Regions from separate parts of the Homo sapiens genome. Here region 2 is linked to region 1. Evidence: fine-mapped expression QTL. A gene starts in region 1. The other region holds a variant in brackets. All regions are shown on one strand. Distances are between the middles of the regions. Region 1 holds the start of C1orf174 (chromosome 1 open reading frame 174). Region 2 has its middle 170 kb from the start of LINC02780.

Evidence for each region. PIP is the estimated chance that this variant, and not a neighbour inherited with it, causes the effect.
Region 2: its variant is the best candidate, but not a certain one, in a credible set for the expression of C1orf174 in follicular helper T cells (Schmiedel 2018, PIP 0.77).

Annotation. Positions count from the first base shown.
Region 1 is chr1:3,893,683-3,908,231 of GRCh38, forward strand. C1orf174 (chromosome 1 open reading frame 174) reads right to left here and starts at 6,590. Exons shown (of 4, transcript NM_207356.3): 1 at 6,490-6,590. The coding sequence starts at 6,504. It overlaps LINC01134 (long intergenic non-protein coding RNA 1134), which reads left to right and starts at 6,722. Exons shown (of 4, transcript NR_024455.1): 1 at 6,722-6,949; 2 at 10,283-10,354. RefSeq lists enhancers at 5,682-6,252, 6,253-6,821, 6,822-7,391, 7,031-7,290 and silencers at 6,341-6,410, 7,491-7,670, 13,760-13,819.
Region 2 is chr1:4,141,173-4,156,754 of GRCh38, forward strand. No RefSeq gene overlaps it. Among named protein-coding and RNA genes, the nearest start is that of LINC02780, 170 kb to the left of the region's middle. RefSeq lists enhancers at 10,909-11,410, 11,411-11,910. The variant T/C (reference allele first, on the strand shown) is at 7,900.

The sequences.
Region 1 (14,549 bases):
CCAGGAGTTCAAGACCAGCCTGGGCAATACAGCGAAAGCCCATCTTTAAAAAATTTTTTTAAAAATTAGCCAGGTGTGGTGGTGTGCACCTGTAGTCCCAGCTATGTGGGAGGCTGAGGTGAGAGGATCACTTGATCCCAGGAGTCTGAGGCTGTAGTGAGCTATGACTGCACCACTGCACTCCACCTGGGTGACAGAGTGAGACAGTGTCTCTGAAAAAATAATAATAATAAAATAGTACAGGGAGTTGCCATGTAGCCTTCACTCAGCTTCCACTAATGTTAAACAACTACAGGACATTGTCAACATTAAGAAATTAGTGACATTACGGTACTCTTCACTAAACTATAGATTTTATTTGTATTTTATCGGTTTCTCCATGAACCGTTTTTCTGTTCCAGAATCCAGTCCACAATACCACACTGCACTTAGAAAACTCGAAAGGAATGAGTGTGAGTAGTAGAAGCAACAAACAGGAGCAATGCAGGTTGACATGGCCGGGAAAGGCCCAAGAGCTGCTGCCAACAGGCCCTAGAACTGGAACCCAGAAGGGGACGGATGAAGAGTGCCCTGCCCAACAGCAGATAAGAGAAATAAAAAAAGGAAAAAAACAAAAAAATAAAACACAGAAATAATCTGTCTCGGCTGGGCGCGGTGGCTCACGGCTGTAATCCCAGCACTTTGGGAGGCTGAGGCAGGTGGATCACAAGGTCAGGAGATCGAGACCATCCCGGCTAACACAGTGAAACCCCGTCTCTACTAAAAATACAAAAAATTAGCCGGGCGTGGTGGTGGGCGCCTGTAGTCCCAGCTACTTGGGAGGCTGAGGCAGGAGAATGGCGTGAACCCAGGAGGCGGAGCTTGCAGTGAGCCGAGATTGCGCCACCGCACTCCAGCCTGGGTGACAGAGCAAGACTCCGTCTCAAAAAAAAAAAAAAAAAGAAATAATCTGTCTCAGCCATGCACCCCGTAGCCCAAGACAGCTCCAGAAACCCTGTGGGGTGGCAGCTCCAAGGTCCTGTGATACTGTGGCAGTCAGAGTGTGTGTCTGAAACAGGAGGGAGAAGAGCAGGCAGCAGCCCACCGGAGGCCAGGACGCCCGCCTGCTGTACACAGGACACGCCAGTTGCCCACAGGCTGGGTGAAGTGCCTGCTACCACAGCACACCGGGGGCTGCGCCTCCGTCCTCTCACAAGGGCAGGGCTTTGCTGAGAGCCCCGGCAGACGTCATGGTCACAGTTACACCAAGGGGACTGAGGCAACAGAGGTTACAGAACTTGCTAAGAGTTGCCATAAACATCTCTCATCAAAATCCTCCCACTGGGTCTTAAACAAGCCCATCTCCCTAAAACGCCATCACGTGCCTCGTAGGGAAAAGACATCTCTGACCTAGAAAGCCACTGCCCCACCTCTCCTCCCTGCTGTGAGCCCTCCTCCGGGCGCTTTGCTGCTCTGTGCTGGAGTATGCTGTGTGGGGAGCCCAGCTCGGTGCCTGAACAGCTTTAAAGGAGTGGCACACCCATTTCAGATGAGGACAACTTGGGTAAGGAGCTTATGAGGTTATACGAGTGATGCCTGGCTTCCAAATCTCTATTCCATCACCACAGCTCACCCTAGATATGACCCCCAACAACTGCCTGAGGTGGGGATTGAACTGAAGAAGCTGCCACCCGCTCTGTGTTCTACGCCTGCACGTCTTTTCCCGCAGCAGGTGCTTCTCAAGGCTTCTGTCAGCATCTTGGCAGCAGTGGTTCTGAACTTTTCGCGTGCAACAGGTTCATCAGGTGGACCTTTTGGCCCCTTCTGCAGAGAAAAGCCAGATGATCTGCTGGGCTGGAAGCGCTGGCTGTTAACAGACACCTGAGGATCTGGTGGGCCTGGAAGCGCTGGCTGTTAACAGACACCTGAGCAGGCCATTTGCTGTCCTCTCCGGATTGACAGGAGTCAAAACATGAGATCGGCTTAGCTTCAGTTTCGTCATGGATTAACCACCTCCAAGGTGTCAACTCCAAAATGTCAAGAATTGGTCACAGTCTCACTTGCAGATTCCTGCTCTGCAGCTGGGCAGCTTGGACTGCTCCCACAGTCCAAAAAAGGAAAGACTTTCTCATCATTGAGATTCTCCTCATTCCAGTAGATTGTTTAATAACTGGTATGTCAGAAGCACAAACATGGTTTCTCCAAAAGGGCTGGCCGAGACTGACTTCAACATGATGGCTCGAGGAGCTTCACTGACCTTCTCAGAGAGTAATGAGCAGTCCCAAAACAGCCATTTAGAGAGCCTTTGGAAATGGTCCTATGGGCACCCAGCAAATGAAGAAACACTTGCTCCAGAACACCTACATACATTTGGTAAGGACACGGAGAGTCTGTGGCACTTGAGCTCCATCCTGCTGCAGCCAAGAACACAGGGCCACCTCCCCAGCTCCCAGGCAGCGGGGTGTCTTCCCAGGAGAGGCAGGATAGCAGTGCTTCCCTTTCTGCTCTCATCCCACCTGTGACTGAGACCAGGTCCTGAGTGAGTAGGATTGAGAAGAGGGGCCCTCCTTTCTGCTCAGACCCTATTTGTAGAATGAAGGCTTCACCTTGGCTCCATTCTACCAGTACGGTTTAAGCCTCTGCAAGAGGCTCCGCCCAGTGAACGGAGAAGACTGGGGCCCCATCAACCCCGTCCTAGATATGAGGTGGTTCCAGGCTGGGGAAGACACATTTGGAGGATCTCAGGCTGCTGCTAGCTCCCCCAGCCCCTATTCAGAGAGGAGCCCATTACTGTCCTCAGCTGCAGGCCCTGGCTCAGAGGCTCTGCCTGGGATGAGAGGCAGGCAACTAAACAGACAGCTCTTACACCTGCCCAAAGGCACCAAATTCCCTGCCATGGAATGTGGAGAAGTTCCGGCCTAAGGGAGCTGTTCAAGTACCGTGGATGCTGTGACGAAGGGGGTGGAGGCAGTGGAGAATCAAGCAATAGGCCAAATTGTAGGCCAACCAGTTCGCAGAAGAGAACCAGAGACTAACACGGCTGGGAGGAGGCCTCTTGGACACAGAACAAACTAACCAAACACTGACCTTAGAAAGTATCCCTTCGAAGAAGCCACAATTTGATTGGATTAGTTTGTAGAGCAACTTATGCCCAGGCTGTTGCTGAGAACAGCACAATAACCTGGCATTAGCGAAGTTCAACAGCTGGATGTGGTCAGGGAAAGAGGAAAAGGACCTCACTAAAACCACTGTCATCCAGAGTGGCTGGGTGCCACCCCCCACCAGCAACATCACAGGCTGAACACTGTGGCAGGGGAAATATACTTTATCAAAACAATCTACCCAGTTGCTAAACAAATAAGCATATTAACAATGACAAGCCCCAGGGTTGGGGACAGTACCCAGAATTGCTAAAATGTATTATCTAAAATGTCAAAAAAATTATGAAGGCATAATTCCAACAAAAAATTATGAAGCACTCAAAGAAAAAGAAAAGTAGGCTCATACACTGGAATAAAAGCAGGCCACAGAAGCTGTCTGTGAGAGTGACCAGATGTTGGATTTATACATATATAAAGGACCAAGGTAGCCATGATAAACAATATCAAGATCATGAATAAAGAAGAAACATAAGATAATGCTGCATCAAAGAGACTATCAATAAAGATAAATTACTTAAAAACCAAATGGAAATTCTGGAGTAGAAAAGTACAAAACCTGAAATAACAAAATTCACTAGAAGGGCTTAATAGTAGAACTGAACTGGCAGGATAAGCAAACTTGAAGACAGATCGATAGATTATGCATGCTGAAGAACACAGAGAAAAAAAGAACGAAGAAAAATAAAGCAAGCTGCAGAGAAATGCTGGACATCATTAAGTGCACTAACATACACAAAATAAGAACCACCAGGAATGCAGAGAGAAAGGAGCAGAAAAAATATTTGAAGAAATAATGGCTGAGAACTTCTCAAATTTACAGAAAAACATTAACCTATATATCCAGGAATCTTTTTTTTTTGAGACGGAGTCTCACTCTATCGCCCAGGCTGGAGTACAGTGGCATAATCTTGGCTCACTGCAAGCTCCGCCCCCCAGGTTCATGCCATTCTCCCGCCTCAGCCTCCCAAGTAGCTGGAACTACAGGCGCCCGCCACCACGCCCCGCTAATTTTTTGTATTTTTAGTAGAGATAGGGTTTCACTGTGTTAGCCAGGATGGTATCAATCTCCTGACCTTGTGATCCGCCTGCCTCAGCCTCCCAAAGTGCTGGGATTACAGGCGTGAGCCACCGTGCCTGGCCCCATATCCAGGAATCTTAATGAACAGAACTCCAAATAGGATACATGCAAAGAGATCCACAGACACATCACTGTAAAAATACAAAGATCAAAGGCAAAATCTTGAAAGAGAACAAAACCTTGAAAGCCCCAAGAAGAAAGCCACTTAGAAGGGAACCTCAATAAATGAACTGACTGAAACAATGGAGAATATTCAAACATATTCAACATGCTCAAATAAACTTGTCAACCAAGAATCCTATATCCAGCAAAGCTATACTTCAAAAATGGGCTGGGCATGGTGGCTCATGCCTGTAATCCCACCACTTTGGGAGGCTGAGGCAGTGATCACCTGAGGTCAGGAGTTTTAGACCAGCCTCGCCAACATGGTGAAAACCTGTCTCCAGTAAAAACACAAAAATTAGCCGGGCGTAGTGGCAGCCTCCTGTAATCCCAGCCATTCCAGAGGCTGAGGTGAGAATCACTTGAACCCGGGAGGCAGAGGTTGCAGTGGGCCGAGATCACACCTCTGCACTCCAGCCTGGGCAACAGAGTGAGACTCTGGTCTCAAAGCAAAAACAACAACAACAACAACAACAACAACAACAACAACAAAACTCACTTTACAAGAAACACTAAAAGAAGTTCATCAGGCTGAAAGCAAGTGACCCCAGACAGTAATTCAAAACCACACACACACAAAAACAGCACCAGTAAAGGTAATTATGTTCTTATATAGTTTAAATGCCTATTCCTCTACCTCCTTCTCTTAATTTAAAAAGCAATTGTATACAGTAATATGTGTATAATATATACAGACATGTACTATATTTGCCAATAACAAAACAAAGTGGGTGAAAGCAAACCCCTGCTGGCTAAGGAAATGACCACAGACAGAAAGTAATAATGATAACACAGTACTGTTGAGTTTGTAACATTATCAGATGTAATACATATAACAAAATACCACAAAAATAACCATATAAGAGTAACATTTCTGTATCACTTGGAATTAACCTAGTACAAATCTGAAGCTTAAGATGTATATGGAGAATATGAAGATTAAGCTGTATACGGTAAAACATAAAGCACTGGAAAAAACCCAAAAAAGTTGTGGAAAAAAAATCATTAAATTAAAATGCTACATTAGGAAATATTCACTTTAATCCACTTAAAGAAGGAACAGGGGAAGAAAAAGACAGACTTGTATAAAGAAAAGAAAAAGTAAAATGGCAAATGTAAACCTAACTACAGTGTATCAATAATATTAAATGTGCATGGGCTAAACAATTCAATCAAAAGGCAGAAACTACCAGACTGCATTTTAAAAAAGATCCAAGTATATGTGCCTACAGGAGACAAGTTTTGGTTCAAAGATAAAAATAGTAAAAGGAGTTGGAATTCACAAGTGGCCACTCCATTTGAACAAACCAGGAGAGCCTCCATGCAGCTCAGAGCCTCCCAAGTGGACCGGGACCCGCGCCGGGTCCACTGTGAAAAGGGTCCTTCGCCTTAACTGTTACACCCACGCAATGAGCACTTGCCCCTTGCCAGACACTGGCACCCCCCTTCAATCCTCACCACCCTCTTGGTGGATCCCTCATCACCCCACTTTTAGCACATTCAGTAGATGGGGCCAAGCTGAGGTCACTTGCTGTGTGACGTCCATTGGAGTGGCAGCAGTTGAGGGGCACAAACTCAGCTCTGCAGCATCTAGCACTACCAGGAGTTGAAACCAGTTCTGGAGAGGGTGCCCCACCTTCCTAGGAAAGTGGCCCGAAACCTCCCTTCAAGGGGGCGTGACCTGGGAGCCCCCTGTTGCCCAGGACGTGAACTGTGAGCTCCACTTCTCCCGAGGGCGTGGACCGGAGCCCCCCTTCTCCCGCGGGCATGGCCTGGGAGCTCCCCTTCTCTCGGGGGTGTGGCCCAGAGGCCCCATTCTGCGGGGGTGGGTAACCTGGGAGCCCCCTTCTCCCGGGGACGTGACCTGTGAGCTCCACTTCTTCCGAGGGCGTGGCCCGGAGCCCCCTTTTCACAGGGGCGTGACCTGGCAGCCCTCCTTCTCCCGGGAGCGTGGCCTGGAGCCCCCCAACTACTGCCGGGGGCGAGGCCCAAGCGGAGGCCGCTCCTAGGCCACAGGCACCCCGTGACCCCGCCCCGGTTCTCCAGACAGCAGGTGACCCAGAGTCCCCGCCCTGCCCGGCGCAGCTGCTGCCGGGACCCAGCCCTCACCTTCCGGCTCCTCATGAGTGTGAGCACCGCAGCCAAGCACCGCGCGCCCCGGCCAACGCGTCCCGGCGGAGCGGCGACCCGGAGTCTGCAGAGCGCGCCGCGGCGGCGTCCGACGTCAGCACAGCCAATCACAGTGCAGCACCCTCGTCATGTGATTCCCCCCCCCCCCCCCCCCGTGTTGGCTCTTTCGTAAGCGGCGGGCGAAGGTCACAGGCCTTGGGCCAGTGGTGGGACACTGGAGCAGGAAGTCGGCCTGTGGCCGGCCATGTTCATGAGGGCGCGTCCCTTGGCACCCCTGTAGCCGCTATGTTTCCCACGCCCGTGGCAGGCCTGAGAGATTATGTTTGCGGGGGGTGCTTTTTTTGTAGCTTCTGTGTTCGCCATATTTGAAAGGGGCAGACGGCCATGTTCGTGAACGGCGCTTCCCTTGGTGCACCTGTGGCCGCCATGTTTGAGCGAGGTGGGCAACTATGTTCTTGAGGGGGGAGCAACCATGTTCTTGAGGGGCTCTTCCCTTGAAGCCTCTTTGGCCACCATGTTTGAGAGGGGCAGACGGCCATGTTTGTAAGGGGCGCTTCTCTTGGTGCGCCTGTGGCCGCTATGTTTGAGAGGGGCAGGCAACCATGTTCGTGAGGGGCGCTTCCCTTGAAGCCTCTTTGGCGCCATGTATGAGAGGGGCGGACGGCCATGTTTGTGAGGGGCTCTTCCTTTGGTGCGCCTGTGGCCGCCATGTTTGAGAGGGGCGGGCGGGACGTCCGTGAGGGGCCCCTCCCCTTGCATCCCCTGGCTAACAGCCTGCAGGAGGGCGGGAAGTGCTTTCTCCAGTGCCGCAGAGCGCTGGTTTCTGAGTGCCGGTTAGCGGCCTTGAGCAGCGCGAGGGACTCCCAGGCCTGCCCGTGCTGCGGTCCCGCTGGGGAGCTTTGCGCGCTTGTCGCAGGCTGTGCTGCCCCGCGACATGCCGCTTTGGGTTGGGGTGGCCCGCCCGGGAAGTGGCCTCAGCTGTCCCCCACGTTGCGGGCGGGAGGGGGCCTTAGTGGAGGCCGTCGGTGGGCCCAGGAGGCCAGGGTCCGGCGTCGGGCTGGGGGCCGGTTTTCGTCCCCCGTTACGTGCAAGGCGGGAAATGACCCCTCCGCCGTCCCGTTACTCTCCGGGGCCAACGTGGACTCGCAGGGGCCACGCCTTTTCCAATGGCCACGCCCCTAGCAGGCCTGGGTGGACCCGCAGCGGCCACGCCTCCTCCAATGGCCGCGCCCTATCAGGTCTGGATGGACACACGGCGGCCACGCCTCCTCCAGCAAACACGCCCCTAGCAGGCCTGGGCTGCTGTGATGCGTCCTCTTTGGCCGCCGCTGAGGGAGGTGTTTGTAAAGCTGAGGACCACTGTTCTGTTGTGGGTTTTTTTGTTTGTTTGTTTGTTTTTTGAGACGGAGTCTCGCTCTGTCACCCAGGCTGGAGTGCAGTGGCGCGATCTCAGCTCACTGCAACCTCCGCCTCATGGGCTCAAGCCATTCTCCTGCCTCAGCCTCCTGAGTAGCTGGGATTACAGGCAGGCGCCACCACACCTGGCTAATTTTTGTATTTTTAGTAGAGATGGGGTTTCATCATGTTGGTCAGGCTGGTCTCGAACTCCTGACCTCAAATAATCCGCCCACCTTGGCCTCCCAAAGTGCTGGGATTACAGGCGTGAGCCACCGTGCCAGGCCCACTGTTCTTTTCTTTTCTTTTTTTTTTTTGACGGGAGTCTCGCTATGTCGCCCAGGCTGGAGTGGAGTGACGCAATCTCGGCTCACTGCAAGCTCTGCCTCCCGGGTTCACGCCATTCTCCTGCCTCAGCCTCCCGAGTAGCTGGGACTACAGGCTCCCGCCACCACACCCGGCTAATTTTTTTGTATTTTTAGTAGAGACGGGGTTTCACCGTGTTAGCTAGGATGATCTCGATCTCCTGACCTCGTGGTCCGCCTGCTGCGGCCTCCCAAAATGCTGGGATTACAGGCGTGAGCCACCGCGCTCGGCACACTGTTCTGTTCTTAAGAATTTCAACATAGAAATGAAATCCAGCCTTGCCTTAAACCCTCCAGCCCTCAAGTTCTCTGGGCTCTAGGATGTGTGTCTTCAGAAAAGGGCGCAGGGTGGAAGCCACATCAGAGGCCGAGGACACCTGGCCCCTCCCCTCTCCGCCCGCAGGTGGCTGCGCAGTCCAGGGCTGGCTCCCAGGTGCTCGGGCGCAGGGTGCACCCAGCAGCCCGTACTGTGCTTTGCAAATAAATGGGAGTCTTATTTCCTTTTTAAATCATTATTTTTTTTTTCAAGTGAGAACATTTAAATCAGGCAGTTTTGTCAGAAGCATTAGGTTTTCCACTTAAACTACAAAGGTTGAAAAGTGAACTGCATTGCATTGTGGCTTCATGGCCTGCTCAGGGTCCCTCTGTGCACTGTTCCAAGGCAGGGTGTGATTCATAATCTCTTCCAAAAGCATCAGTGTGCCTTCTCTTACGGTATGACTCTCTCAAAGCCCAGACATGCAGCTGATGCCTCCTTTTAGTGCCTGAGAAGGGAGAGTATTTAAGGATCCTGCCAGCTTGAGCTCTATGCAGCCTCCACTCTCTTTAGAAGTGTGACGTTTGGTAATTAGGTGGAGCCCTCAAATTAGACTGCACGTGGGGTTTTGCTTTCGGCAGTGAGTGAAGATGCTTGCAGCCCTGGTGTACACACACACACACATGTCCTACCTGGCTGTTGTACCCTCTCTCTTCCTAGCCCTGCGCTTCTCCCGTGTTATTATCCATGTTGTACAGAAGGGGAGGAGACAAATGTGTAACTGGCAGGAAATGCGTTTGAAATGGAAACTTAATATAATCGCTGCCAGCTGTTCAGAAAAAAATGAGAGCGAGCGATACTTTGTTAAACACCTAGCCTGTCCCATTTTCGCAGAGATTGATTTCATAATAAGCTTGGTTCAGTGGTTTTATTTCCCAGTCCTTGGGAGCTCAAAGTTTTCATCCACTGGGGCTTGGCTGGTGTTTGCCTGTCTTGTTTGTGGTTGGTGCCAGTTGATGTAAATGCCTCACTGCCTGGCCTCGCCCGCCCGATGGGGGCTCTGGGCTCCGAGCCATGTGGACTTTTAACATCCCAAAGGGCACTCTCCTTCCCTTCACCAATGTTGTCTGTCCTCTCCCCAGGTCTGGGATGAGCATGGTTTCCAGCCTCCCAGCTGTAAGGCCTGACACCCAGGCCATTGGTGAATGTCTCTCTCTCCCTGCCCACATCCTGTCAGATGCCGGTTGCTGTTAATTCTAGACTTTGAAGCCTCACGGCTGGTCTCTCCTTTTCCTCTGGCCTGGGCAGCCCACAGCTGTTGGGGTGATCCCCTGCTTCTGGGATCCAGAGCCACAGTCTTAGAGTGGCCTGTAAGTCCTGGCATGGTGCCTGGCACACTGTGGGTGCCCAGCAGGTGTTTGTCCAATGAATGTGCGGAAGGGCTTCTGAGCTTGCTCACCGTTGCCGCTCCCTGCTCCAGCCGCACAGAGTCCCAGCACCTGTTCCCCTGCCCCTCTGCTATCCACAGTGCCTCCCTCAGCTCCTGACCACTGCAAAGCCTCTTCCCCACTTCCCTGTGCCTGAAAACCTTCTTTCCCCAGCTCCCCAACCCACGTTTTGCCTGGCTAATCCATTTGTTAAACCTCAACTCAGCTTATATCTCCTGTCCTCAGGGGGCCCTTCCTGGATGCTCCCCCGCCCCCTACATTCAATCTGCCGGTTGCTGCTTTTTTAGTGTTCTGCACTCTTCTACCAGGACCCCGTGGCAGGCCAGGACCGTTTCTCCGGTGCTATCCCAGAGCATGGCGCATCCACTCATTCACTCAAGGTATCAAGCTCCACTGTGTTCTGGGGACTGGGCCAGGCGCAAGCCCAGGCATGGAATCATCACACAGAATTGTACGTTTGCAGTGTGATGGGAGCCACGGGGGAGAGGCCACATGGGCAACAGCACAGAGCTGGGGGTGTCGGGTGAGGATCCTGGGAGGAAGTGGCTGGGGCCCCCTCTCCCTCCCTCATCCTGTAGGATGCAGGCCCCTTTCAGGCCCACCCGGGGGAAACAGAGCCTCCTAGTCAAGGCTGGATGTGCAGTGGAGCCCTGTCTGGACAGGCTACCCCTCCTGACGAGGTGGGAGGTGTTGGCGTGGGCAGAGGAGCCAATCTTGAATTCTCTCCCCCGCTCCACCTCAAGCTGCCATGTGGAATTGCAGGAGACCCTGGAGGGAGCAGAAAACCAGGCTCGGCCGAAGCCACCTCCACACCACGGTTTCCTGGGTTCCCCAAAACCAGGCTTGGCCGAAGCCACCTCCACACCACAGCTTCCCGGGTTCGCTGTGTCTGCTTCTGTTCTTATTCCTGATTAGCTGTGCCCCCACCCGGCCAGGTCAGGGCACAGTGAGACTCCCCATGGTGGCAGGCGTGTGAAGTCTGTGCAGGCTTGTACGTGGCTGGCCCCCCACCTGAACTGTACGCCCCTGGAAGGCAGGGTCCGTGTTTTGTTCACGGAGGCTGGTGATACCCAGAGGACATTGGCTGGCTGGCTGGCTGGCCGGGGGCGAGACGCACACAGAGAACTTGAGGATTGTGGATTGGAGGAAACTTTGCATTCTTGCCCATACCACAAATTTCTGACTTAAAACACTGCTGTGCCCCAGTTCAGTATTTGCCTTTGACAAACACTGTAGGGCCAGTGAGAAAGTTGAAGAGATTTTTCAACTGACTAGCAGTCGGTAGACCCGTTAACTGAGGCCACCCCGGCCAGAGCACATTGCATTCCTGCCAACAGATGGTGGCCTGTATGATGACAGGGCCTCTCTTGCATATGGCCTTTTATAATTAAAAGAAAGAAGTAATAGGTAGAAAGAGAGAGAGAGAGGGAGAAGGCAGGGGAAAAAAAGCTTGCAGCATGCTTTTAAAATGTCATCGCACCACTGCACTCCAGCCTGGGTGACAGAGTGAAACTTTGTCAAAAAAAAAAAAAAAGTTCTCTTTGAATTGACCTAAACTAATGTTTTCTTAATAGCCCACCCTCTCCTATCCTCTCGGTCCACCCGACTTAGCTGGGCAAAAATAACCCTGTGGTAGGACAGCCGTCTGCTGTTGGAAAGTATCGCAGCTCCTCCCGTGTCTGCCCCGTGCACATGTGCCAAGGTCCTGCCTTGAATGAAGGACACAGCGGAGAAGGATGTAGGCTCTGAGCCTGCTAGGGTGCCTGAGAGACTCACAGGACTACCCCTGGGGCAGTTGGAAGATGCCCAGAAACTTCAGGGAGCCACCAGCATGGGGCAGAGGGTCTCTTCTGGAGTTGGTGGCATCAGAATCAGGTGTAGAGTACATAGGAACTGTTGGCGCCGTGCAGAGATGGGGAAGGAGGTGCCGGTGGAAGGGCCCAATGCCTGCGCCCCTGGGGCCCTCACTGGAGGCTGAGCATCCACTGGACTCTTGTAGCCCGCTTTGTAGACTGATCAGTAGTCTGTGACATGACGATGTTTGAGTAGAGTAGACCATTTTCTGCTTCATATATCCTACAACGTGCTGGGATCAGGAGGCAGTGGTGGGTCCATGGCATCTGACCCAGCCCGACGCCCTTGTGGTCTCCAGGCGGTCATGACCCATGGCCTGACCCGGCTTGGTCAGCCCGGCCTGGCCGTGTCTTCCCAGGTTCACACCCAGCCCTGGCCCCTCTCTGCCCCCTTGCCAGGAAATTTGAGTCCTCCTTAACGTTTCTCAATATTGTGGTTTTGTTTTGTTCTTTCTCATTCATTTGTCTTTTAATTTTTGGCTTCCGTTTTTTATGGGCACCTAATTGTGTGTGTTCTAAAAATTGAATTGTGCTTCTGTTCTTATTGATGGCAGCTAACCATCACTGTGTAAGTAGGCAGGATGTGGAGGTCTACCTAGGAGAACTCGCTTGCCTCTGCTTTTCACCGACGCAGGCCCGGTGGAGATGCTCCAGCGGAAGCCAGGACTTGTCTCCTGGTGGAGTCCACCGGTTTCATTCATCAAAAGTTTGTTGGGCTCTCTGCACACACGTTGTAAAGAGCACTGCAGGCAGTGCACAGGCAGGGCTGTGGGAGCTGTGGGCGTGGCTCCCGCCAGGGTGGAGCTGCACCCTCCATGGGGAGTCATGGTGCATGTGCACAGCTGCAGAGAGAGGCTGCAGGGCAGGAGAACCTCGGGAACCCCGTAGTCTCCGCTTGCCCTGACTGTATGAAGAACATGCTCCATTTGGGTATCAGTGAAACTGCACACCAGGGGGGAACATTCAAATCGTGAACTCCAACATCATCCAGCAGAAAAGCTCCGAGCGATGGGCCACTTTGTGCCTTGCTGCCAGCCCTCCGCTGGGATCACGCTGCAGTGTCCTTTGAAGAAAAGGCCTGGGATTTGCAGAGCCTGGAGAAGGCTAAATTTCCAACTAGATGAAAAAAAAAATTGCCATTTTATGAGAACCTTTGGGCAGTCTGGAAGAAAAACACCAAGATGAAAAGCCCTATTTTGAGAGCTCCCTTGCCTTCAAGCAGGGGCCGCTGGCAGTGGAAACCGGCTGGGGATCGGGCTGATGGCAGAGTGAGGTTCAGGCTGGGAGCGGGCATGTGGACAGGTCCCTCCCTGCAGATCCACGTCTGCCTCCCACTCGCAGATGCCCCTGTGCCCAGCGCACCGTAGGCTCACTTGGTCAAACATCAGGGGCATGGCAGGGCCAACAGATAAATGGATTTTCCCGCAAACGTACTAGTCATTGATGGGCAGCTGTTTTTCCCTCTGTGGCCGTGTAGCCATGCTCAGGCCATGTGCAGGATGAGGAATTCCTGAAGAACTGTCTGCACCCAGGGCAGAGATTACGGGGTTCTGAGGTTCCCCCGCCCCGCGGCCTCTCTTGGCGGCTGTGCGTGTTCAGTTGCCTTCATTGAAACCCAAGCATCCGTCCTCGGCTGCCACCGACACAGGTCAAGGCCACCCAGGAGGAGACACTGTGGGGCCCTGCCCAGTTCTCACGGGTATCGCATTTTGGCAGGACGTGGACCCAGGCAGGACTGGGAACGATGACCCTCAAGTCCAGGTCGGTTCCCATGTGTGGCCTTCAGGAACTAAAATCATCAGCTTTCAAATCAAACAGGTTTCATCTGAGCTACTGAGACGTCACGGGCTGTCAGTAAAGGCCATGAGGGCCCCCTAGGGGCAGCAAAGGCCGTGGGAAGATGCAGGAAAGAGTGAGTGGGAAGGCAGGGGTGTGGCGGGAAGGCAGGGGTGCGGCCGGAGGGCGGGGTGGGGCTTGCAGGCTCTCCCGCCTAGTGTCTCAGCCACTTGAAAGTGAGCTGTGAATAGGCATCACTCCACTTTTAGGGATGCAGGACAGTAGAGACTGTGTGTTGGTGGCATGTTTCAGAAATGAGACTTCTCCACGTCGGTGGGGAGGGGTCTGCCCTGCTCATGGGCCCTGGGAGCGGAATGGCCGACGGCCGGTCTCTGCTCACCCAGGCTCGCTCCGCCCCACGGAGGATTCCCCAGTTTCCTCGAAGGGCACTTGCCTACCGAGGTCCCTGCGGCTGTGACTTCCCTGTCATGCTGCTTCCTAAGAATCCAGAACAGATTCAGGTCAGTGCGTTTCGAGGCAGCTAAGTACAACGGCAGCGTCTGTCCTTAAACTTGAGTGCAGAGCCAGGGTCACCGCCGCCCGCTCGCAGCAGCTGACTGGTGTGAACTGATGGGGTGGACATAACCTGGCTTCTCAGGTGGGGCTTTGCAGGGCTGGCTTGCTCCAGGCTCCCTCCAGGCCACCTTGTGCAATGGTTTCACCTCGTCTTATTCTAGTGCAGGTTCGCCCCCTGCCTGGCTCCATCCTTCTTTTCAAAGTCTGGGCACAGAATGGAGGCCAGCCCACGTGGTTATCTGGTCTCCACACGTGTCTCTGGGTTTGTGGGGGTGTTGGCTTGCAGACCAGGAGCAGCTAACAAGGTCTGTACCTTGTTTCGAATTTTGGACTGAACTGTCTGGAATTCTTGGACGTTCTCAAGCTAACT
Region 2 (15,582 bases), 250 kb after region 1:
GAGTCGTGGGCCACCCAGTTCCTGGTCTGTGCTTTCCAAACTGGGTTCCACATGTGCTGGGGCTCACAACTGCCAGTAAGTGGGTTCCCCAAGGGCCCCAGCTGCCTCTTTTCTAGGTTTCTCTTTAGGGGAAGGAATCTCCCATTCCAGGGAGACGGGACCCCAAAGCCTGGGCAGAGGATGGGACCCCAGAGTCTCAGTGGGCAGCTCAATGTCTCCTTTGGAGAAAGCTGTCTCAGAGAAGAGGGCTGCTGGTAGCCTGGGAGTTGGGAGGTTGGGAGAGGGAGGCCCACGTCTGCTCTGGGCTCCACCCCCACCCAGCCTGATCATCTCTGTCTGTGAGGCTGGGCCTCACCCTCCTCACCCGAGAAACCTTCATCCATCAGCTGGTCCACTCCACTCCCAGCTCCCTCGTGACCTCAGGCCTGCCCCAGGGACACTCTTCAAGTGAGGGTGGTCGAAAGAATAAAGGACCTCAAAGATGTCTACATCCTAGTCCCTGAACCCTGTAAAGATGTCACTTACATGGCAAAAGGGATTTTGCAGATAAGATTAAATTAAGGGTTGGAGACAGTGGATCATCCTGTTCTACCTGGTGGGCCCAGTGGAATGAGGAGTGCTTCTAAGAGGGAGGCAGGAGGGATGGAGTCAGGAAAAGGAGCAGGGATGGTGGAGTGGAGGGTGGACGGATGCACCCTGGAGATGGAGGAGGGGCCACCAGCAGCAGAACGTGCGCAGTATCGAGGAAACGGTGAAGGTGAGACGCGGACACCCTGGAGCTCCAGAAAGGAAGGCAGCTCTGCGGACTCCTTGGTTTCATCCTCGCATAACACATTTCAGACTTCCAGAGTTGTAAGAGAATACATTTGTGCTGTTTTAAGCCACTAATTTTGCAGCAATTTGTGACAGCAACCACAGGAAGTGAATATGGCCAGGATCAGAAATTCCAGAGGAAGCTGGGCTTTCTGATGCTGCCCAACTCTATCCTCTGTCCAGGCTCTGACTCTGGGCCCTGGCTGAGGTGTGCAATGGGGGTGCTGCTGCTGTGTCCTTGCTGCACCCAGTGACCTGCGAGAGAACCTTCCTCCAGAGGGAGCCGACTTTAGCAGCGTCTGGTTTACCCTGGAGCCTCCAGGTCCCCTCTCGGGGTACAACGAGCACTTTGCCACCCTCCTGGTAGCCCTGCAGCCCTGCCAGCAGAGCCTTCCCATTTCCATTTTTTTTTTTGAGATGGATTCTCCCTCTGTTGCCCAGGTTGGAGTGCAGTGGCGCGATCTCGGCTCACTGCAACCTCCGCCTCCCGGGTTCACACCATTCTCCTGCCTCGGCTTCCCGAGTAGCTGGGACTACAGGCGCCTGCCCCATGCCCAGAAAATTTTTTGTATTTTTAGTAGAGATGAGGTTTCACCGTGTTAGCCAGGATGGTCTCGATCTCCTGACCTCATGATCTGCCCGCCTCGGCCTCCCAAAGTGCTGGGATTATAGGCGTGAGCCACAGCGCCTGGCTCAGCCCTTCCCATTTCCATCCTGGCTGCCAGGAGAGATGGGATTTCGTGACCCATTGCTCCGCTGATTTTCCCAACACATTATTGAGATGCTTCAGTGCTCCAAGCCAAAGTCACAACAAATATCCTTTCCCCTCCCCCGATCATTTCTCCAACTCACTCTGGCTCCCGAGGACTTGGTGCCATTGGGCCCAGGAAGAGTGAAGTGGCTGAGGAGCCCTTTACATGAGTGTAGGGAAAGGCAACCACAGCCTCCTTAGCTGCAGGCAGGTGCAGACAGAACACAGCACGAGAGCCTGCATGTGTGTTTGCGTGTGTGTGTGTGTGTACACACAGACACATGAATGCTGACGTATGTGTACATACATGTGCATGTAAGAGTGTGTGTGCATGCCTGTGTGCATGTGTATGTGTGTGTCTGGTGTTGTCACGGGGAAAGCATGGGAAAACTTCTCTCATCGGTTTCTGGCCTCTTGTAGTCACAGCACAGACCTAGTTCTCAGGTGGAATTCTGCCCCTGGATGTGATGACCTCCTGGGCGTATCATCTGGGCCTGGCTTCTATTGGCTGTGGCATGGGGTGAAAGCTGTCATTGTTACTCTATTTCACAGAGTCCTTATCCCCAGCTAAAGAGTCTTCAGGGTCAGATTCTTAATGTGATTATTCTGAAACTCCAAGTCAATGACTTATCTTATGAAAACCTCTGCTACCCACAGGTTACTGGAAAAACAAGCAAAATCCTTCTCTCACTCTCTATTAGACCTAAGATACATTGATGCTGTTTTCACAGTTCATGGTTCAGGGAAATTTACATTTGATTCCTTTCAGAGAATATAAAGGTAGCTCTTACATAAGAAGGAGTAGGGCTAAAAGAGATGTTGGTATAATTTAAACACTTAAAATTGCAATTTAAAGAAAGACTTTAAATATTTTGGGCCTATGACATCTAACTGCTGACTCCCAGGTCAGTGAATGGGGCTGGGCAGAAATTTTGGGAGCGAGATAGCAGAATGTACCAACAGAAGGGCCCAGTGGTGAGCTGGCATGTCATACTTCACACATAAATAGACTATATGAGCCATTTATCTTCTCATATATGCATCATCCACTCAGGATTTGGTATCAACAATATAATAAACCCCATCTTTTATGTAGGCATTTCCTACATAAAATAAACCTCTTTCTACTGAACATAGTTCAGGAAATTCATGGTCATTGGCTTTGTTATCCTTTTTGTGTAACTCACTGTGTCGAGAGAGAAGCATTGGCAGCCAGGCTGTCCTTGGAATTGAATTTACTTAATGTGAGCCACCTGGTCTCCTCTCCTTGGGATGCCAAGAGGAAGCGTCACCTTAGCACTCTGGCCTCTGCCCTTGGGCACCCAGGAGAAGAGGGGGCCTTTTGGTTTGCACAACACGGAGAAGGTGTGCAGGGCTGATCGATGGAGCAGCTGCCTAGGTTGGAATCCCAGTCAGACCCTTGCCAGGTAGGCAGCCTTGAGCAAACATAAGCTCCAATGTTCTCATTTGCAATTATTGTCCCTATGTCATAGGACTGCTGTTGGGGTAAAATGAATGAATATGTACAAAGCATTGAAAACAGTGTGAACACTTAGTAAATGCCCCATGAATGTTGGCTGGGTGTTGTCATCACATGATCACCATGATCATCGTTACCACTACCACCACCATCACCACTATCATAGACACCGTCCTTACTTTCATCACGGTAATTACTATCATGATTACCACCGTCATCATCACCATCATCATTACATCATTGTCACCATCACCACCACCACCACCATTATCATCACCACCATTCTTACTATCATCACTGTGATCACCATCATCATTACCACCATCACCATCACCATCATCATTACATCATCATCATCATCACCACCACCACTACCACACCACCACCATCACACCATTATCATTATCATCACCACCACCACCACCACCACACCACCACCATCACCATTATCATTATCATCACCACCATCCTTACTATCATCACTGTGATCACCATCTTCATCACCACCAACACCATCACCATCACCATCATCACTACCATCATCACCACCATCCTTACCATAATCACTGTGATCACCGTCATCACCAATACCATCATTACCATTATCATCATCACCATCGTTACCATCTCCATCATCACCATCATCACCATCACCACCACCATCATCATCATAATCGTCATCATTATCACCATCACTATCATCACCATGACTCTCATGGTGGATCCCTTGGCTTAGTAGTAGGCACAGAGAGGTTTAAGGAGCTATGACTAACAGAAATGAAAGTCAGAGTGGTTGTGCTGGAAATAATAAAGGAAGTATTAGTACTCTTATTGGGTGCTATTACCATCGCTATATTATAGACAATAAAGAAGCTGAGGCAGAGAGAGGCTGTGAAACCTGCCCAGCATCACACAGAGGAGTCAGTATTTAAACTGGGAAGTCTTGATTAAACTCCTAACCCTGGAAATGTTTAAATCCTGGAAGGAGGATGGCTTTGTAGGGTGACTACAGAGTCCTCAGACACTAGTGAGATGCTTTGAGTAAGTGACTTAAAGTCTTTGAGCACTGAAAGTCTATGATTTCATGAACACTATGGAATCATAAGTCTATGATTTTATTCAGGGAAGTGAAATAGAGTGAGTTGAATCAAATATTTTGAAACAAAGGCTTGGATGCTCCAGGGGAGAGATTGGACTATTAAAAAATAGCAAATGGGATTTAGTTTTCAACACTGACATGCTGTCTGTGGTTGGGCCAGGCCCCGCCCACCTGAGCTGCCCATAGAGCTGTTCCCAGAGTGCAGAGATGACTGACTGCCTGAATCACATTTCTAATGCTTGTCTAACTGTTTCTCGTTTGATTCTTCTCTTATTGGAGTGTTGAGAGCTACGACGAGCCAAAGCTCCCTTTAGGGCAGCAAACCCCAGGAAAAACATAAAACAGTTCTCGGCCTGAATTCAGGATAAATCCTGTCCCCCTCATTATAAAATACCTATTATGTCCCTTTATCTCCAAGTGAGCAGCGTTATTTCAATTTAACAGTGTGTGAGAAATGTCCCACGATATAATAAAAAGATCAAGCATGCACTATTTAATGTCAGAATGACAGATGCTTCAATTAGGCAGACAGGACTATTTCTCCCCAAAATAGATAAAGATGAAATTTTTATAAGATTGTGCTGTTTGTGTTTATGGTATGGTACTGTTACAAGCTTTCATTACAATATAAATTAAAACAAAAACTCTTATTTCAGTGGAAACCGACCATCTTGCTAATAATTTTGCAACTCAGAACCGCTGTTTATCAAAGCCCTCGGTCCTCTCACCTGGGAAGAGAAGTCTTCACAGACCTGAGGCATCATCAGGTAACAAATCTCACTCCGACATTCAGAAATCCTTTTCCAAGAGAGACAGAAAGGCATGTTTCAAAGTTATCGTTTGGTCGAAGCTTGTGGATATATTTTTGACATGTGAACTTTTCTTTTCTCCTTGGTCTTGATCTCAAGTCACCGGACAGAGGATACTCAATGGGTGATTGCAAAGTCTGGGTGGGGGCCGGGGCACTAGTTTAGGTTCTGTCACTTGTCTGTCCCTCACCCTCAGCAGGTGCAATTGCTGCAGCTCCACTCACTACCAGGCCTGCCACTCTGGAGCCTCTTGGCCATCTGAGTCTGTAGCTCAAAGATTTCAATGTTTCTTTAGCATCCTCTAACCCACCGTGGAGGATTTTCTCAATCAATCCTATCACTACGAAAGAGACGTTGGTACCATTGACAGCCATGTATTCAGTTTCTAAAGCTTAATTTCTAGTCACTCCTCCGCTTTCCATTTTAGGGTTTTATATTCTCCAATCGCCATGAGAACACATCTTTTTTTTATAAATGGGAAAATGCATCATCTCTGTAAAAACATTTGGAATTACATAACCAAATGTCTGGTTCCAGGAAAATGATGGGCTGAGGTAGCGTGGCGTGTCCCCTACTAAAAATGCACAGAAATAACAGGTGAACTATAACCTTTCAACAGATACACAGTGTGGAGTATATGAATGCACGCCTGCACACACACACACACACACACACGCACACATTTGGAATGGCCCTGGGCTAGAAATTAACAAGGAACAGGAAACGCTTGAGCTGTAGGTGCCTTAAATGGAGTAGTGAGACTGGGAGGGCCTGGAAGCTGGATTTCTGAGTTGTGATGTTCATTAAGGGACTGGTATGAGGCCTTGGGCCCTGCTGAGGTGGGTGGTGCAGGGTGATTGAAAAATGGAAACTCCTGTTTCCCCTATGAATCTGAAGATCAAATTTATACTGCCAACATGATTCTTCTTTTAAAAAAATTACAAATGAATCTACCACAGAAATGGTATATTCCATGGGAATCTTACAAGCTCCAAGTTCCGAAAGTTTTCCTCTAGAATTTGTCTTTGTTTTCATTATAGTGCATCTTCTTCTATCATGACCAGAGGGGTATCAGCCACTTGGGACCTGTTTCTTAGCTTGGGATTTACTGGCTTCCCCCAAGAGTTCTCCCTTGATCGCCAGCATAAACTCAGCTTCCAGTGAGTGCAGAGGCTGTCTCTGATTTCTACCCTGGGTCTCTGCCCAGCACAGGGCCTGATACCTGGCCGGTCCCTGGTGTTTGGTGGCGGCTGCTGAGTGAGGATGTGGAGGAATCACCGTGGTTCCCTGTGTGTGCCCCTTAGTTTCCCTTCTGGGACGCTATCCCCTGGTTTAAACAGCAACTTAGGTCGAATGAATTAAAACAACTCGAGGGAGGAAATGTAGTGGAGAACACCTTTCATCCAGTTAAAAATTTTAAAAACGTGAATAGCTGTTTGAAGACATTTTTCCCTCCGTGCCGTGAGCCTGGCTCTTTCTCCTCTGCGAGCAGGCTGTGTCTTGACATGGAAGGCGGGGCTGATACTTTTAAACAAAGGACTTTTAATAAAGCAGATTCATCATTCCAAGGGCTTCTGTTCCAACTGTCAGGCCTACCGTCAAGAGAGGGAGCGGTGGCGCAGAGCTTCTAAAGCGCTGGTTTCACAGGAGATACAAAGAGATAATTAGAACCACGGGTAAGAAGATCATAGAGCGAGACACCCAGACGAGGTGGGGGAGAGAGGAGCAGTGAGACATGGGTGGATTTAGCCCTCAAAGTCACTGGGCCATGAAGGGGGAACAGGAGCTGCGTGTCCCCACCTGCCCCTGCCTCGCTGGCCGCACCTCCCTTCGCTGAATCTGCAGCCGGGGAAGACGAGGTGGGCAGGAGCCATTGTGGAATCTCTACCCCCACCCCATTTTTTTTCCCTAAAAAGTGGTTTATTTGGCTGGGCACAGTGGCTTATGCCTGTAATCCCAGCACTTTGGGAGGCTGAGGTGGGCGGATCGCCTGAGGTCAGGAGTTTGAGACCAGCCTTGCCAACATGGTGAAACCCCGTCTCTACTAAAAATACAAAAATTAGCTGGGTGTGGTGGTGGGTGCCTGTAGTCCCAGCTACTTGGGAGGCTGAGGCAGGAGAATCACTTGAACCCAGGAGGCAGAGGTTGCAGTAAGCAGAGATGACATCACTGTACTCCAGCCTGGGTGACAGAGCGAGATTCCATCTCAAAAACAAACAAACAAACAAAAAACTGGTTTATTGTGCTGGGTAGCTTCTCCCTTCTCTCTGCTTGATATTAGGTGCCAGACACAGTGCAATGTTCCTCATTCAACACAAACCTGTCCCATGTATAGAAGAAGAAAGCACAGATGCCCACAGAGGCCCAGCGACTTGCGCCAGGCCTCACAGCTACCAAATGGCAGGGTGGGACTGGGAGCTGGCTCCAGCCTACTGAGAGGACAGTCACTGCTCAGGGCCTTTAAACGTACCTAAAGGTCCCCTCTCTTGCTTTTCTTCTTATTTTCTATGTCCAAGGAGTTGCTTGGCTGGGCACCAGCTCCAAATGGAGGCCAGGGCATTCCAGAGAGAGAGATAAGCGGAAGCCCATCGGCCAGGTGGAGAGTGCCCCCTCCTCGGCAGGATCCTCCAGGTGGAGAGTGCACTGCAGGAGAGAGGGTCTGTGCTCAGCTATGATCTGCCGGTAGGGTGGATGTTTCACAGCAGAACCTGCTCCAAGACCCAGCTGTGCATGGTGGGGTCGGTTCTGCCCTGTGCCCTGGAACCGCCCTGTCATTCATGAAAGAATCCCAGCCTTGATGTGGGACAGTTCTGCAGCCTCCATCAAGGTGGCAAATAGAGCCCCAAACCATCTCGCTTTATTTGGGACTGAGGGGGTTCCTGGGATGCAGGACTTTTTGTGTTAAAACTGGGAAAATGGGGCTGGGCCCGCCCTTCCCCTGTTTCCC[T/C]GTTGCCAGAGCTCATGGTCCTTATGAACCGCAATGGTCAGGTGCTGACAGAGCCTAGGCCAGCTAAGCAGGTCCCAAGTTAAACACCTGCTCCTGGAATTGACCTCTCCCATACGGACTTCTGCCAACCATAGATGTGGTTTGATGTTTTCTCCTTGAACCCCATTAGGCCCCAATTTTCACATGACGCTGGAGCATAGAGCCGAGAGGGAGGGATGCCACACACACTCAGGGACTCGGTCAGGGACTTGGTCCTGGGTGGCAGAGGCTGCAGGACTGTGGGAGGGGTTGGTGTGGAGTCCTTGCCACATCCTCACAGCTCCCCCAGGGGTGCTCCTGAGCCTAGTGCCCGCACACCTGTGGCAGAGGGGTGGAGGGCTCTGAAGGTTACACGTGTCACACTCAGCACCATGGGCAAGCCACAGTCCTGAACCACTCACCTCCTGAGCTGAGCCTGCAGCCTGGCAAGGAGTGGCGGTTGCAGAGCTGACTTTCAGAACCTGAAACCTTTGTTAGTGCCTCCGAACCCCAGGCACCAGGTGGGCCTCCTGAGCCATCTGAGGCCTCACAGGACTGTCCAGAGGGTCCGAAAGTTCTCCCGGACCTGGAATCCCCATTACCATCCTACCGCCCAGACACCGTGGAATAGCGTTTTGTTGCAGCAGTTACTGAAACTGCAATTTGCCCTGTAAAGATGGTTGTTTAGGCTTGTTTTATTTAGCTATGTTTGCCTACGAATCAGCTCTAACGGTATTCTATTTAATTTCCCTCTCCCAAATAGCATGACGCTTAATGTAAACCAATTACTACAATTTTGCTTTCTAAGAAATCAGGAAATGTAATCAAGGAGATGCAATTTGTTTGCTTTTCATGAAATACTAGGGTGCGGTAGCAACAGAAGTGGCAGGAGTGGTCTTTGGAGGGATCAGAGCATGCATGTGTGAGCGTGTGTGTGCGAGAGGTGAGTGAAGCCGTGTGTGTGCATGCATCTGCATGTATCTCTCCACGTGTGCCTCTCTGGGTCTGTGTGTGCGATGTGTGCATTTATCCTGAAAGCTGCGCACAGGCCTGAACCATGAGAAAGCCCAGTCCGCTTACACAAACCCTGAAGTATTAAGAGTTTCACAAAAGGCTGACGGGACAGACCTTCATTCACAGACACGTAGGGCTGACCCGGGAGAGGAAAGATTTGCTTATGGCCAATTGACTGCCCATAAAGGTTGATTGGGCATAATAAGAGGCATTTTATTTTGAATCTCTTTCTCATTGTGAATGATAATCAGGCTCCTGGGGACAGAGGTGAGTGATCTAACACAGAACAGTGTCCAGGGGGCAGCATGAGCACCAAGAAAAGCCTGGAGAGTGGGGGAGGAGGCTCCCTCTCTGAGGGCCACCAGGTCAGAGCTGCCCGAACACCCTCTGGTCCCAGCGTCAGGGCAGGGCGACGTCAGGCTGAGTGAGACAGGCTCTTTCCAGCAGGTAGTTCCCTCTGCGCCCACAGACTCCTGGCTCCGACTGCTGGTTCGCTGGTCTCTCTCCAGGATGGGCAGGGATAAGACCTGTGAGGGGTTTGGGGACTGTGTCCTCCAGCTCTTAGGCCCGAGGGTTGTGGCTGGCCAGCAGTTCTCACCTTCATCCTCCAGCCTTGGATTCTGACCAGAGAGTGAATTCTCTGATTTCTTTCCCTTCCTTGGAAATCTCCTATAACCTGCATAGCAAAGAGGTCTCCTCCTTCCAGGCTGCAAAAATGGGAGCTCAGAGACTGGCCCAGAGGAAGCGGCAAGAGGGGACGGGCCCTCAGCTGGGGGCTCTCCAGGGTCTGCACCACACCAGGTGCCTGGTGCTCTGGAAGCACAAGGTCCCCTCTGTGAAAGTCACTCTTGTCAATCCCCAGGAGGCTGGGGCAGGTCTTCAACTTTTTTCTGTTTAACTCTTTTTTTAAAAGGAAAAACGTTTACTTTAAAAAGTAAAATTTATGTAGCATACAATTCACCATTTTATTACACTTTTAAAATTTATTTTTAATGGACAAATAAAAATTCTTCATACAATGCACAACATGATGTTTTGATCTGTGTATATTTGTGGAATGGCAAAATCAAGCAGCTTAACACATGTGTTATGAACTGACCGTGTTCAAGCGGACAACTCAGTGGCATTTGGTGCATTCCTTGTGTCACCATCAGCTCTCTTTAGTTTCCAACCTTCTCATCACCTCAGAAGAGACCCCGGATCTATTCACTCCTTAACTCTTTAAGGCCTGGATTCTTTCCTTTAAAAACTGATGTGAGGCCGGGCACAGTGGCTCATGCCTGTAATTCCAGCACTTTGGGAGGCCAAAGTAGGTGGATCATGAGGTTGGGAGATCGAGACCATCCTGGCTAACACGGTGAAACTCCATCTCTACTAAAAATACAAAAAAATAGCCGGGCACGGTGGCACGTGCCTGTAGTCCCAGCTACTCGGGAGGCTGAGGCAGGATAATTGCTTGAACCTGGGAGGTGGAGATTGCAGTGAGCCGAGATTTCGCCACTGCACTCCAGCCTGGGTGACAGAGCAAGACTCCATCTCAAGAAAAAAAAAAAAGAAAAAGCTGAGGGGAATGAATGTTGTCTTCAATTTCCTTTATTATTTTCATCATAAACGCCTTTGCACATGACCTGAAGGGTCTCACTCCGCTTTCCAGTGGTGCCTTCTTAGAACCTCACACTCAGCCTCCAATTTCTTTTCTTTCTTTCTTTTTTTTTTTGTGACGGAGTCTCACTCTATCGCCCAGGCTGGAGTGCAGTGGTGTGATCTCGGCTCACTGCAAGCTCCGCCTCCCGGGTTCACCCCATTCTCCTGCCTCAGCCTCCTGAGTAGCTGCGACTACAGGCACCCGCCACCACGCCCGGCTAATTTTTTGCATTTTTAGTAGAGACGGGGTTTCACCGTGTTAGCCAAGATGGTCTCAATCTTGTGACCTCGTGATCCTCCTGCTTTGGTCTCCCAAAGTGCTGGGATTACAGGCATGAGCCACTGCGCCCGGCCCCCCAGCCTTCGATTTTCTTCTGAGTCTGGCTGGGGCTCCAAGGTAGTGACTCCTCAGGAGACACTATCCAGCCTGTAGCTTCAGGGGACTGTAGGGGACTTGTGGGGTGGGGGCAGAGCCTACAGGTGCACTCACCTGGGTCCACGTGTTCCTTCAGGGAAGGCTGTTGAGTTCTGTGCATTCAGCAGAAAATAGGGCACAGCAGTGGGTTCTTCACAGTGATTTTCATGAAGATTGAAAAATGGGACTCACCCCGCTGAGTGCCAGGAACATACGAGACAATGGATAAGGTGCAGTCACTGTGTTGGAGGATTCAGTGAGAAAGCCTACGCGTGCTTAGCACACTGTGGGGGATCTGAAACATCAGCCTCCCTTTCCCCGTGGGGGCGTGGGGCTTCCCTTACTTGGTCCTGGTTACCCCCCACGGGATGCGGGGCCTTTGCATGCTCCCAGCAACCTCCCTCGACACGATTCTCCACCTTTCTACAGAGGCAGTGATGTCCCTGTGGGGCTCACGCCCAGGGATGCCTCAGAAATTCCCAGCTGGTCACAGCTCCCTGTAACCCATAGGCCCTAGCACCTGCACACTGCCTCTCATGTTACTCGCAGCGTGTTTCAGAATGGACGCAGAACCAGAGACAGAAAATCTCTCCTCTGAGCTGCTTGGTGTCATTCCCCCAGGATGCCAGGAAAGCCTGAGCCCAGTGCTCCAGTGACAGGCCCCCTCCCCAATCCAGGAGCGATAGCAGACACGAGGGGTGATGGGGATGCGACAGCCCGTGGCAGCGGGGCCCTGAGTCACTGTCCTTTAGAGCAGTGTCTTGTTGGGAAAGGAGGGCTGGGATTTGCCTGAGGGGGACTGAGGAACAAGGTGCCTGTGAAAGAGGAGTGGGGACTCAATGCCAGCCCCCACCATGCAGTCCCCATGTTACAGCGCAGGGTGAGCGTTCATTCCGGCCTTTGCTTCTCACCCTTCTTAAACAACTGCCCCAGAACCTGCACTCTGGGGACCAGAGAGAACTGTCCACATTCCCAAGACCCCCTGGAAAGGGGAGGCAGGGCTTCTTCTGCACTTGGCTCCCAGGGAGACATGAGGACGAAGGTAGGGTGAGGACCAGAGTCCCTGCCCCAGGGCTGGGCATCAGGCTTGGGGACCAGGAGGCAGAGGAACCATCAGGGATGGTCTAGGGAAAGGGAAGCCACCTCACAGTGCCAATACCCCCTCTTGATGCAGTTTTGCTGCTCTGGGCTGTTTCTGCTGCTCCCCCCACATCGGCAGTGGTGCAACCTGGATGTCCTGCCCTACCCCGACATTCCCACGTCTTGCCCCGGCCCACTTCTCACGGTGGTTCCGGTTCTCCCAGTGTGTTATCGCACAGCTGCTCATGGGGTCCTCAAGGGAGGTGGGAGAGCCTAACCCAGCAGCCCAGTGCATGGAACAGAAAAGGCACTAGCATCCCCATGAAGCAGGATGCTGTTCACAGAGCTCTGGGCCAGAAGCTGCTCTGGGGGACCAATGAGGCATGACCAGATGCTGGTGGTCGGCCATGGCTTCAGCCTCAGGCTGCTGTGACAGAGTGGTACACTGGGGACTCAAACAACAGACATGAATGTCTCACAGTCCTGGAGGCTGGAAGTCCAAGGTTGGGGTACCGGCATGGCCGGTTCTGGTGAGGGCAGAGGGCTGTCTAATTGCTGTGTCCTCACGTGGCCGAGAGTGGAGACAGAGGGGCAGCAAGTGCTCTCATGCCTGTTCTTATAAGGGCACTGATCCCATTTGTGTTAGTCAGGGATCTCCAGAGGAACAGAACCAATAGGAGAAATGCAGATAAACAGGAGAGGGGATTTATGAGGGGAATTGGCACACACGACTATGGTGGCTTACAAGTCCCATAGAAGGCCGTCTACAAGCTGGAGATGCAAGAAAGCCAGCAGTGTGATTCGGTGTGAGTCTGAAGGCCTGAGAATGAGGGGAGCTGATGGTGTGACCCCCAGCGTGAGGCCAAGGGCTGGAGGCATCATCTCAGGGGGTGTGGGGCTTGAGAACCAGGAGCTCCAATGTCTGAGAGCAGAAGATGTGTGTCCCAGCTCCAGAGGAAAGAGAGAATGAAATTGCCCTTTCTCCACCTGTTGTGCCCTCGTGATCCTGCATGGACTGGGTAACGCTCATCCACATTGGTGGAAATGGATCTTCTTAATGCAGTCTGCTGACTCAAATGCTTTTGGAAACACAGTCACAGACGCACCCTGAAATCATGCTCTACCAGCAACCTGGACAGATACCTGTTAGCCCAGTCAAGTTGACACAGAAAATTCTCCATCACGCCATTCATGCGGGCTCCACCTTCATGACCTAATCTAACACTAACCTCACAAAGGCCTCAGTGCCTCACACCGTCACCATGGGGATTAGCGTTTCAACATATGGGTTTTGGAGGGACACAAGCGTTCAGTTCCTAGGAGTCAACCAGGCACCAGGGCCAGTGGCTAACATTTCCTTTCCCATATAAAAGATGCTAGGATTCCACTTTTCCAGCCTTGGCACAATAGGAAAAAAGGAAAAACAAACAAACAACACCTCCTCTTTTAAGAAGAAAGCGCTAAATTCAATGATTCTATCTCAATAAGAAGGAAAAGTTCACTTAGAAGATTTTCTCTTGTTATTGAGTCACATCTCCAGGTGGCTGCTGCCTAGACTCTCAACCACAGTCATTTGGGAAAAAATCAGTCCTGTGCACTCAGGGCTGACACTATTGTCTTGTCACCTAATTTTTCTTTCTTTCTTTTATTTATTTTTTTTTTAAAAGATTTATTTATTTATTTATTTAGTTTTTAACAGGCTCCATTGCCCAGGCTGGAGTGCAGTGGCACAGTCACAACTCACTGCAGCCTTGACCACCTGGGCTTAAGCCATCCTCCCATCTCGGTCTCCTGAATAGCTGGGATCACAGGCGCCCACCACCATGCTGGGTTAATTATTATTATTATTATTATTATTATTATTTTGAGACGGAGTCTGGCTCTGTAGTCCAGGCTGGAGTGCAGCGGTACCATCCTGACTCACTGCAACCTCCGCCTCCCAGGTTCAAGCGATTCTCCTGCCTCAGCCTCCTGAGTAGCTGGGATTACAGGTGTGCACCACCATGCCCGGCTAATTTTTTTGTATTTTTAGTAGAGGTGGGGTTTCACTGTGGCCTCGAACTCCTGACCTCAAGTGATCTGCTTGCCTTGGCCTCCCAAAGTGCTGAGATTACAGGTGTGAGCCACTGGGCCTGCCCACATTTTAAAAAAATTATTTGTAGAGCTGGGGTTTTGCCATGTTATTCCAGGCTGGTCTCAAACTCCAGGCCTCAAGTGATCCTTCTGCCTTGGCCTCCCAAAGTGCTGGGATTACAGTCATGAGGCACTGCACCCAGCCTGATGTTTCGTTTGATGCAATTGTCTCACTTGTGAGTCACAGGTTGGACTTTACAGAAGCCCTCAAGGAGAGTCAGACTCCATACTTAAAAAAACTAGATTAGGTAAAAAAGACTTGGATTCTACGAAATCACTTCGGTTGTCTGTGATTGTCGTATAGCAACTATTTTCCATGATCAAAGTATTTATTTATTATTTATTTATTTAGAAAACCTCTCACTTTGTCACCCAGGCTGGGGTGCAGTCACACGATCACAGCTCCCTGCAGCCTCAACCTCCTGGGCTCAGATGATCCTCCCACCTCAGCCTCCCAAGTAGCTGGGACTACAGGCACCCACCACCACACCCAGTTAATTTTTGTAATTTTGTAGAGACATGGTTTTGCTGTGTTGCCCAGGCTGGTCTCTAACTCCTGAGCTGAAGCGATCTGCTCCCCTCAGCCTCCCAAAGAGCTGGGATAAGAGGCCTGAGCCACTGTGCCTGGCCCAAAGTATTTATATTTAGAATATTTACATTCCATGACCCTGGGTCCTAATCTATTCCTCAGATATTAAATAGCTTCTCAGGCATTTGCTGGAACAAATCGCATGCAAATCACTTTGGACTGTGGACCCTGGAAGCTGCCTCTTGAGTGTGTTGGGGCAGTAGGAAGATTCTGAAAGGGCTTTTTGTGAGCAGGCACCAGCCCAGTGGGGAAGAGGGTTTGGGGAGAGCTTCCCGTGGGCCACATCCAGTGTGATGCCGCCAGATGAGACCCCAGGGGTTTTGACCCCCAGGGCCATAGGTACATTTGAGGTGGCCACCTGCGTCCTGGCCTCTGGAGCCAGGGAAGAGCTCAGAGACTGTTTCCTGACTCCGACCAGGCCTAATGTCCGCTGTGGTCCCAGTGCAGGAGGCCGGGTGAGACGGCTGTGCTCACGGGCCCCTCCCTCATGGTGAGCCTGCTCTCGCGAATTCTAGCTGGGAGGCAGGAGGGGGCAGAGGGGAGTGCTGGGAGCTGTTCAGGTCCTTGCACGGAGCCCAGAGACCAGGCAGTGTCTTTGGAACCAAGACAAGTGTGGGAGTGTCTAATGAAAGCAGAGACCCCCAGCTTCACCCATTCCACAGTGGCACCCCCACAATGCTCTCTAAGGAGGTGCCTGGACCTGCCACTCTTCCTATTTCATCTTCTACGTGCTCCCTCCTGCTGCCTTCCCACCCTCCACTAAGACTGCTCCCCCAGCACTGTCACCAGG